3 linked regions of the Homo sapiens genome follow. The protein of the gene in region 2 purifies or fractionates together with the protein of the main gene of each other region. This does not show direct contact. Each region holds a gene or a part of one and is shown on either strand. Other genes may lie near its edges. The genes, in order: AKAP8, NIPBL and MED13.

Evidence for each region.
Region 1: the proteins of NIPBL (region 2) and AKAP8 purify together in Homo sapiens (affinity purification with mass spectrometry, with the first as the bait; one large-scale study listed by BioGRID). This does not show direct contact.
Region 3: the proteins of NIPBL (region 2) and MED13 purify together in Homo sapiens (affinity purification with mass spectrometry, with the first as the bait; one large-scale study listed by BioGRID). This does not show direct contact.

Annotation. Positions count from the first base shown.
Region 1 is NC_000019.10:15,373,288-15,376,939, forward strand, and holds part of AKAP8 (A-kinase anchor protein 8), read right to left. Parts: intron 1,349-3,652; coding exon 1,316-1,348; intron 779-1,315; coding exon 499-778; intron 54-498; coding exon 1-53. UniProt on the Homo sapiens protein: Anchoring protein that mediates the subcellular compartmentation of cAMP-dependent protein kinase (PKA type II).
Region 2 is NC_000005.10:36,984,758-36,988,409, reverse strand, and holds part of NIPBL (nipped-B-like protein), read right to left. Parts: coding exon 2,109-3,652; intron 1-2,108. UniProt on the Homo sapiens protein: Plays an important role in the loading of the cohesin complex on to DNA. Forms a heterodimeric complex (also known as cohesin loading complex) with MAU2/SCC4 which mediates the loading of the cohesin complex onto chromatin.
Region 3 is NC_000017.11:62,058,692-62,062,343, forward strand, and holds part of MED13 (mediator of RNA polymerase II transcription subunit 13), read right to left. Parts: intron 1-3,652. UniProt on the Homo sapiens protein: Component of the Mediator complex, a coactivator involved in the regulated transcription of nearly all RNA polymerase II-dependent genes.

The sequences.
Region 1 (3,652 bases), on a different chromosome or scaffold from region 2:
CCGGCAGGCAGGGCCTGGAGTCATAGGACTCGAACGGCTGGAAGCGGAAGGAGCTGCAACAGAAGCACAGCCCATCAGGGGCGGTCACCCCGATCACCCACTGCCACACTCCCTCAGTATAACCTCGACGCCCCTACATTCAAAACAGCAAACCAAACCACCCTGCATCCCACCTAAGTGCTGGGATGACCAAAACTGACCAACACCCTCCCTGGAACACTGCTGAGCAGGGGACAGAGCCCCTGGCCACAGGAATAGCATGATGTAGAAAAAAGGAGTCTCGGGGAGCTTAGCCAACAACCACGCCCAAGCCCCGCCATGAAGAAAAGCAAGGAAGTCCTACTGTAACATCACTGACCCCCCACGAGCCCAACTCGTCAATGCCACACCCAAGAGGGAGGCGGGGACAGGCCCTCCCTCAAGAGTGGGTGCCCACTCCCATGCGCACAAAGGTGGGGATGTGTGGGGTCCCGGGGGAGGGCTTGGGTCCATAATCACCTCTCCCGGTCCTGTATGCCCTCCCCACCGCCGCCGCTCCCGCCCCTGCCTCCTTCCTTGGACATCATGTCCAAACGCTGGTTGATCTTGGCAATGAGGGAGTCGGAATTGTCGGTGCATGGCTCTGGGCCGTAAGAGGCCATGTGCATGGCAGGGGCCCCGGCCGCCAGGCCGCCATCATTGGCCTTGGCGGCCTCCCACGAGGCTGGGCCGTAGCTGTAGGTTGCGCCTGTGGTGACACTGGTGTTCTGGGCGCCATAGTAATTGTAGTTTTCATAACCTGTCACAGGGGGAGGAGCCAAGTCAGACTTCAGCAGCCACGAGGCCTGTCCATGGTGGACACAACCGGGGAGGGGCACCCGCTGCCACGGAGAAGGAAAACGGGTGTGGGACCCAGTGCTGCTGGCATCACTTCACACTGCACTGTGACCTGCCAAGAGGCAGCAGGAGGTGGCCAGAGAAAGGGGCAGCCTCAGTGCCGAGCGGCGGGTTTTCCATGCCAGACGCTAGGACCTGTTCCCCATTCAAAGCCGGGTGACTGAGAGCCTGGGAACAGCAGTTCCGGCTGCTGACAGGCCCCACAAAGGACCGCTGCTCCCAAAGCACGGTCGCAGTCCTCCCCATCATGCTCCCCTGAGGCCGCCCACCACAGCCCTCTGCAGTCCCCCCATATACACAACAGCAGCCGTGGCTGACTGCGTCCTCAGGAACAGAGCCAGAAAGTCCACGCCAGACCTCCCTGACGGGCTGACCCGCCTGGCCTTCAGATCAGAGGCCCACTTGCCCGCCCACAGACCCCCCCCACAGAAGGGCTTACCTTGCCAGCTGGCCACACCAGTTCCATATGCACCTTAGGGGAAACAGAAACACACAAGAGCCCTGTTTGCAGAACGAAGGCACTGACACCCCAGCTGTCACCTTGCTCCACCCTCCACAGCCCCAGGGCCAGGGCTTCCCTCCGCAGCGCTCAGGGAGACACCCTTGGGTGTTTTTAGCTCACTCAACTCCTACAGAGCACTAGGCTGAGAGGCTGAGCACAAGCAAGCCCTCTATCCCGGGCAAGGCCAACCGTCCGTCAGGGCAAGGGAAGGGACGCCGCACGCTCCCCAGGAAGCTCGTCCACTGTGGGCTGCTGGCCAAGAGGTTGGCCAGGCCAGGCCCCAGGCAGAGACCTCGTAAAGGGTCAGTTCCCATCAGAAGCCAGAGTGCAGGCGCTGCCAACTGCACAGCGAAGCATTGGTGCAAAGTCACGTCCTCAACTCAAGCGAAAAAGAGGACGTTATGTGCCACGAGCGACTTGGAAGGCCTCCTCCTGAAACACCGGGTGGTGGCTCAAAAGCAGCCCCACTCCCCATGTTGCCTGAGTCAGATCTCAGGCTCAGAAAACAAAGGAAGCCCTCGTGCCCTAAAACACGGGCTGGCAGAAAGGAGAAAGCCTCGCCAGCAGAGAGCATGCACTGGTTCGCCACACAAGCCTAGCATCATGGCCCTGACTCTAAAGCAGGGATCTGCAAAAAGTCCAGCCACACCCAGCCCACTTCCCGCCTTGGCACAGCCCTTAGGATTTTCGAATTTCGGTGCCCATAAATAAGTACCAGCACACTGCCCGTAGCCCTGTGCTCTCAGGCTCTGCCCTCAGCTAAGGATGAATTTTACGTTTTTAAATGGTTGGGGTAAAGTTTCTAAAGTGTATTCAATGACAAATTTTGACATGAGATACATCACTTACACACTGGATCAAAACTCAGAGAACTATACAAATTAACAAAAACTATGAGCTATAGTGAATAATATCACATCAACATTGCCTGATTAATTGTAACAAATGCATCACACCAATGCAAGATTTTTTTTTTGTTTTTTTTTTTTGAGATGGAGTCTCGCTCTGTTGCATGGGCTGAAGTGCAGTGGCGCGATCTCGGCTCACTGCAAGCTCCACCTCCTGGGTTCACGCCATTCTCCTGTCTCAGCCTCCGGAGTAGCTGGGACTACAGGCGCCCGCCACCGCGCCCGGCTAATTTTTTTTGTATTTTTAGTAGAGACGGGGTTTCACTGTGTTAGCCAGGATGGTCTCGATCTCCTGACCTCGTGATCTGCCCGCCTCGGCCTCCCAAAATGCTGGGATTACAGGCGTGAGCCACCGTGCCTGGCCTTTTTTTTTTTGAGACAGGGTCGTGCTCTGTCACCCAGGCTGGAGTACAGTGGCATAATCACAGCTCACTGCAGCCTTACCTCCTGGGCTCAAGCAATCTTCCTATCTCAGCCTTCTGAGTGGCCGGGACTACAGGCACGCACTGCCACGCCCCACTAATTTTTCATTAGTTGGATAAAAGGATCACTTGAGCTCGGGTCTCGAACTCCCAGGCTCAAGTGAGCCTCTTGCCTCAGCCTCCCAAAGTGCTGGGATTGCAGGCGTGTGCTGCCTCGCCCAGCTAATGAAAGATCTTACTAATGAGGCCAGGCGTGGTGGCTCACGCCTGTAATCCCAGCACTTTGATTATGGGATTGATTATGAGGTCAGGAGTTCGAGACCAGCTTGGCCAACATGGTAAAACCCTGTCTCTACTAAAAATACAAAAATTAGCTGGGCGCAGTGGTGGGTGCCTGTAATCCCAGCTACTCGGGAGGCTGCGGCTGCAGTAAGCCGAGATCACACCACTGCACTCCAGCCTGGGCAACAGAGCAAGACTCTGTATCAAAAGAAAAAAAAATCATACTAATGAGATTTTTAGTACACTCACTACAGGTGTAGTGTACACTCAGTACACCTGAGTGGAGGTGGGTGGGCGTATGAAACTCCACTACTCAATCTAAAGCTGTACTAAAAAGTCTGGTAATTATAGAGAAAAAACACCTCGGATATACCCTCAGCTATTTACTCAGAATAACAAAAATATTTTGCCAAAATAGAGTATTCACTAACACGCAAAAATTAGGAACTTCAAATTGTATTGTCTGTAAGTAACTACTGGCATTGTCCCATCCACTCTTTCACACATTTATGACTGCTTTCCTGCTACAGAGACTGTGGAGCCCATAAAGCCACAAAGATATTCACTATCTGATCTTTTACACAAAGTTTGCTGACCCCTGGGCTACTACTCTCCCTTGACCCAAGTTCAGCTCTGCCATGCTAGGGCCTTGAGTTAGGGGA
Region 2 (3,652 bases):
GAAAAGGACTGTTACTGTAATTGCAGTTACATTAATATATGTGTATATATACACAAACATGCACATGTACACATACACACACATCACTCTAATAGGCAGACACCCAGATAGCTTACTTACATACTAACATGACCATATCAGGTATATACATCTGCATTAAAAGTATACTATCAGAAACGCATTTTGGTGCTAAAAACATATTCATAGGCAATATTATTGCATGTGAAAAACCCAGGTGAAATAATATACCAATTACTAACTAAAAGCTATATTCACTTCTGGATGTTCTTTAAGGAGTTTTAAAAGACTCTTTGTTAGAACAGAGTTTAGAAAGCAAGGCTAGGGTAAGCTGAGAGGGGAGGGAGAGAAAGATGGTCCAGATCAAAGGAACAAGAGGGTACCACTTTCCATCTTTCACCTGACTCTTCTAAAATTGTATAGCCATACTCTTTAGTTTATAAATATAAGCTACTCCCAAACTTTCACTAAAAAATTTTAAAGAAAATTTTTACCTAAAAGAAAACAATTGTGGTGTTAACCCCCACATTCTACAACCTCTTTTATATTAACAAGTAACTCTGAAAAGATGCATTCAAGTTAAATAAAAAAGCCTACTTATTAATTAAGGCTGATGTCTTAACTGACTTTTGGTAAGTCTAATTGCCATAATTTAAAATTTAAAAGCTTCACTCAAAGAACACAAATATTAGCGACTCAGAAGGCAATCTTTTTTCATTATTGTAAGACAAAAGGAAATAAATTAACAGTGAAAAAATGAATGTTGACGAAGACCAAGCAAGAATAACAACAGATTAGCCACAAGTCATTCTTTGAATAAAGAGTTCTTTATAATATGTTTTCAAAGAGCTTTCTTGGTAGACAAGCTACAACAGCATGTTATGAAAAACAATAACCACACACTTTTTGTATCTCCTAATACACTGCAGTGCTATACAACTTTGTGATGATGCAAATGTTCTGTTTTGTCCAATATGGTAGCCAACAGCCACATGTGACTACTAATGAAATGAACTTCCAATTTTAGTTAACTTAAATTTAAATAGCCAAAAAAGGCAATGGTTACCCTCTTGGCCAATGCAATTCCAGATTTCATATACTTGGTTATATATAAGTATAAATCTAAATTCTTAATAATTCTCTTTCACAGAAGGAAAACTTAAATAAACTCTCAGTTCTATTGCCTTCACTACACCTCAGTATATTTAGACTGTATGGACACGGTGGCTCACGCCTGTAATCCCAGCACTTTGGGAGGCTGAGAGGAGAGGATCACTTGAGGCCAGGAGTTCGAAACCAGCCTGGTCAACAAAGCAAGACCCCATCTCTATTTAAAAATAAAAAAAGTTATTTTAAATACTTGTGTACAAAGGGATACAGAAGTATATCTTCTGCACAAATGGCCATTATCTTTTGGCACTTAAGACATTCTTCTCCCTTTGGAAATAATTTTACTCAAGTAACCAGAGAATTCAGAAACCATGCAAAAATAACACCAGTCCCCCGCCTCCCACAAACTTACAATTTAACCAAATTTAAAAAGTAAGTACCATTCCCTATTACCTTTGCATAAACAAGGACAAAAAGATATGTTTTAAAAATATAAAACATATTTAACTAACCATCTCCCCAACAAAATGAAAAATAACCTTTTATATAACTTTCTAAACTATACAAATTATTCATCAATAATTGGCTCAGACACAGGTCTGTAAGAATGTAGTATTGTAAGACATTTTTAAATAGAGAGTTTTTAAAGACAGCTATTTTAATACAACATTCACTTAAGCATATTTCAGAAATATAAGAAATAACTAAACAGCAAAATAACTTATCTCTGTGTAACCAAATAGCAGTAACATTCATAACTACCTTGAGTAGTGGGTGGGAAGAAAAAAACTGTGGGGAAAAAAAAATTCACTGGAAACTTTTTATCTATACTCCTGAAAAAAATTTCCTGTTGTTTGACATAAATGTTATATTTTCATGTAGTAGCTTTCTAATTTTTGTAAATTTCCTTTTTAAAACTTAGTAATCTTAACACTTAAAATCGATTATATTATAAATGACATCAGTAGAAGTATTCTTACCTTTATTTGACTTTGATGGTTTATTCTTGATAGGTTTAAGGGAACTTCTTGATTTGTCCTCTCTATCTTTAATAAGTTTCTGAACATCATCCAAAGACAGTTTTTGTAGCACAACTACAGGCTTAGCTCCTTTATTTAGATCTTCAACTAATCCTATTTTTTCTACTTTGTCTTTCGGCTCTCCTTTCATTTCCATTTTCTTTGTCTCCTGAGTAACATTGCCATCTTTATCCCTCTTGATTTTCGGAATGACAAAATTTTTCAACGCACCAGACCTGCCCCCCAACAAATAACTTGGAAATTCTGCCTTATTGTCAGGGTGTGCTTTATTAGTGTCTACTTTACTCTTGTTACCCTCTGTCCTTTTGTCATCTTTACTAGTTGGTGATTTAAAACCAAGTTTATCAGATCTTGATTTATTAGAATCTCCTTGTTTAACACGAGGACTGTCAGGTCTTGATTTTTGTTCCCCAGAAGATGGTCTTTCCCTTGAGTCCCCTGATTCATGCCTGTGTTTTCGTTCTAGTTTATCAGTTTTTGAACTATCAGATTTAATGCCATGTTCATTTCTACTAGAGGATCTCAATGTTTCTGGTCTTCGAACCCTAGACTGATCCCCTCGATGTCGCTCTGATTCACCCCTGTCATCTGATTTTTGTTTATTATCATGGTCACGTCTTAGTGACTCAGAAACAGATCGCCCATCAGGTCTCTGCTTTAAGGCTTCAGCTCGTTCTGATTTTAACCGAGGTGAGTCAGATTTAGTATCTTGTTTATGTTTAGACACTTCAGGTTTTTTCTCTGTAGATGGCTTTCCAGAATCCCTCCTATTGTCATGCCTGTGTTTTGGTGTTTCAGGTCGCCCTTCATTTTTTTGCTTTGGAGTTTCAGGGCGGCTCTCACCTTTTTGCTTTGGAGTTTCAGGCCTTCCATCACCCTTCTGTTTTGGGGTTTCAGGATGCCCATCACTCTTTTGTTTTGGAGTCTCAGGCCGGCTTTCACCCTTTTGCTTTGGGGTTTCAGGCCTTGATTTTGTTGTTTCTGATCTGCCATTATTTTGTTTGTTGTCATTTGGTTTTGTGTCAGACAGTCTATTTTCATTTTGTTTAGGCTCAACTATGGTGCTCTCGTTTTGTTTGCATTCAGTTGTTCTGCTCTCATTCTGTTTAAGTTCTTCTGTTTGGGTCTCAACTTTAGTTTCTAACTTATTTTCACTTGATTTTGTCTCCACCAATCGGTTTTCATTTGGTTTAGATTCTGCTAATCTACTTTCACTTTGTTTCATTTCACTCTTTGAAAGCTCAGGATCAGACTTTTTTTTAGGTGTCTCAGGATGGTTTTCTGGTGTAGATTTAAGACTTCCAACAATATCTTCCTGAAGAACAGAAACAGGTGCATCATTACATTGTTTGATTTCTTCAGGCTTTTTTATGGAGTCTGAATCCTGAGTTATAGAAGCCTGAGAGTCCACTCTTCCTGCCTGATGAAGATCAATGCTAACCATTAATGCTGGCCTTGACCCATTTCCCGTAGAACCCGTCTCC
Region 3 (3,652 bases), on a different chromosome or scaffold from region 2:
ATTCAAGAGATTTTTTGAACAAATAACCTTCTGGAATGTTATAGTTTGGCTAATACTAGTTAGCACAAATCCTGATCCAAAAATCATCCAGCCTTTGCAAATTACTTTGCTCAACGGTATTGACTTACTGCTACAAAATGAGTAACTGAGGGTTTAAAGTATGTATTAAATCAGACGTGATTTGCTGTAACTGATCTTTGCCAGTTAGCAATAAAATAAGTTTACATTCTATTTCTACACATCAGCTAAACTTGAAAGGAAGGTAACCCAAACAAATGCTAAGTGACATAAGAGAAAATGAAATTTAAAATGCACTATGGAATCTGAACAGATTCTTCAGAACTGTCGAAATCATCAAAACCAAAGAAAGTCTGAGAAACTGTCACAGTCTAACAAAGCCTAAGGAGACATGACAATTAAATGTAATAGGGGTATCTTAAATGAGATCCTAGAAAAGAAAAACATATTAGGCAAAAAAATAAAGGAAATCCAAATATATACTTTAGTTAATAATAAAGTATCAATATTGGTTCATTAGTTAATTTTTAAAAATACACTGCATGACACAAAGGAGCTAAGGGGGTTAAACAAAGGCAATTCTGTATTTCTGTTACTGAATATTCCAGTTAAGAAAAACTGAGAATTCTAATCTTTGAAAAAAGAAATGCTTTCCCTCTTCCCTCACTACCAAGAAAAACAAGGGCAATATTATCACCATAATAAAAAACACTTCAGTAACAAGATGTGGTGTGTGCTGAACCAAACAGAAGGACACTGCCTGTGAAGAGCAGGCTCAAGCTAAATTAACCAGCTTTTTAGTTACCACCTGGGTCCTTCCGGTACCCCATTCCTCAGTGCTACACCTCCACTTGGAACTCAGGACTGCCTCCAGCAGCTGATGCTACCCTGTACTGTCCAGCTGCTCTCTTCTCAGGGGAGCTTAGAAGAAGGAAATAGAGTGCCACAGATGGAAGAAATGAAAAAGGGGTTAGCTAGAGAGACAGAGGCAGACTAATTACCCCAAGAGGGAGGTAGACGCTGTCCCTAGAGCAAAGAAAAGGGCAAGACAAATATATTCCATCTGAAAAAACCTTATTATGCTTTAAGATACGTCTGATTTAAGTAACAACATTCTTAAGTAAATAACAGGTTTTATTTTTAAGAAAAGCTAAAATATTATATAAATAACACTGACTATGCAAACTAAAACAGTACAGGACAAGCTTTGGAACAATAAATATGATCATATACCACTCCTAATTGTATTTCAGTTTATTATTTCAATCACTTCACTTTGATAAATTTTTAAGTTATTTACGGCCAGGTGCAGTGACTCACGCCTGTAATCCTAGCACTTTGGGAGGCCGAGGCGGGTGGACTGTCTGCGCTCAGGAGTTCGAGACCAGCCTGGCGAACACGGTGAAACCCCATCTCTACTAAAAATACAAAAAATTAGCCGAGTGTGGCAGCATGTGCCTGTAATCCCAGCTACTCGGGAGGCTGAGACAGGAGAATCGCTTGAACCCAGGAGGTGGAGGTTGCAGTGAGCTGAGATTGCGCCACTGCACTCCAGCCTGGGCGACAAAGCAAGACTCCATCTCAAAAAAAAAGCTATTTACCATTCATTAGCATTCAGTAAAGTCTGACAGCAGTTAAAACCCTACCTCCTGCCTGTAATCCCAGCAGTTTGGGAGGCCAAGGCTGGCGGATCACAAGCTCAGGAGATCGAGACCATCCTGTCTAACAGTGAAACCCCGTCTCTATTAAAAATACAAAAAATTAGCCGGGCGTGGTGGTGGGCGCCTGTAGTCCCAGGTACTCAGGAGGCTGAGGTAGTAGGAGTATGGCATGAACCCAGGAGGCAGAGCTTGCAGCAAGCAAGCTCCACTGCACTCAGAGAGCGAGATCACGCCACTGCACTCCAGCCCGCGGGACAGAATGAGACTCCGTCTCAAAAAAAAAAAAAAAACCAACCTCCCAAAATTATTTTCATTCACGTTCAAGATCACTATCTATTTTTTTTTTTGAGACAGAGTCTCACTCTGTCGCCCAGGCTGGAGTGCAGTGGCAAGATCTCGGCTCACTGCAACCTCCGCCTCCTGGGATCAAGCAATTCTCCTGCCTCAGCCTACTGAGTAGCTGGAACTACAGGTGCGTGCCACCATGCCCAGCTAATTTTTGTGTCTTCAGTAGAGATGGGGTTTCACCATGTTGGCCAGGATGGTCTCTATCTCCTGACCCTGCGATCTGCCTGCCTCAGCCTCCCAAAAGTGCTGGGATTACAGGCGTGAGTGAGCCATGGCACCCAGCTGATCACTATTTTAAAGGTACAAGTAACTACCATTTTTGAAAATTACGCTAAAAATCAAAGCTAGAGAAAAATGTTTAAGACTGTAACCTAGTTTCAGTGGAGAAAACATATCTGACTGGTAACATGAAACCTAGAAGACAAAACTGACTTTTAACAATATCCATCAAAGCAGCTCACATCTAACTTTAATAGTCTTTTAACTTTCACAATATTTTTTCTATTACGGTAAAACTAGGCCAGGTGCAGGGGCTCACACTTGTAATCCCAGCACTTTGGGAGGTTAAGATGGAAGGATCACTAGAGTTCAGGAGTTCAAGACCAGCCTGGTCAACACAGCAAGACCCCATCTCTACTTAAAAAGAAAAAAAGAAAAAAAAAATTAAACATTATGTATCTCTTAAAATTATCTTTGATTCTACAAAGTGTATTTCATGGAATCTTAAAAAAAGATCTGTTTAGTCTGTTTAGATGCTCTGCCAACTTTATTAAGAAGACCAAAGCCCCTAAGTCACCATTATAGTTTTATCAATAATTATGTTTTATCAACAAATATATTTTATCAATAGTTTATAGTTTTTCAACAATGTTATACAGTCTCCAAACATTCTAGTAAGGTGATTTTTATGACCACTTAACGATTAAAATAACTCAAATACTATATCCAAAACAATGAAAGAAAAAGGAGGCTGGCGGACTTAGCTTTTGGCATAATTAGAAAGTATTGTCTCGCTAAAACTACCATATATACATACATCATGTATATGTACATATATGTATATACATATACACATCACTTTACACATTTAGAACTACATTAAATACACACAACTAAGGACTGGACTCTGCAGCAGGCATCTTATTAGAAAAACTACAAAAGCTGGAAAGCTTTCTTGAAGAATTGCAGTCACTCTCAAAAATAACAATTAACACTGGAGAGTATGTTCATTAGAATGTGAAAAGCAATTATCAAAACATACAAATGTAACACGTACATTCCTACATAAATGTTGGTCTTACTAAGTACCAGTTCAAGATACAGACACCTAGAATACATTCTATCCAAAAATAAAATAGATCCTATAGGTCAGAGATACAATAACAAAAACTTCAGAGTACTCAATTTCAAATAAGAACTTAAAAAAAATTATCTAGAAATCCTAAGTTTATCTGTCAAAAATCATTATCAAACTATCTTACTGAAGTCTTTGGAACCTTATAGCATACAACCAATCATTTATATTCCTATTATCTAAGATTCAGTTAATACTGACTTTCACAATTTAAAGCTTCAGTAATTATATGAAAAGCTATAGTTTCTCTTTCTAAAGTAGCATTTGGTCC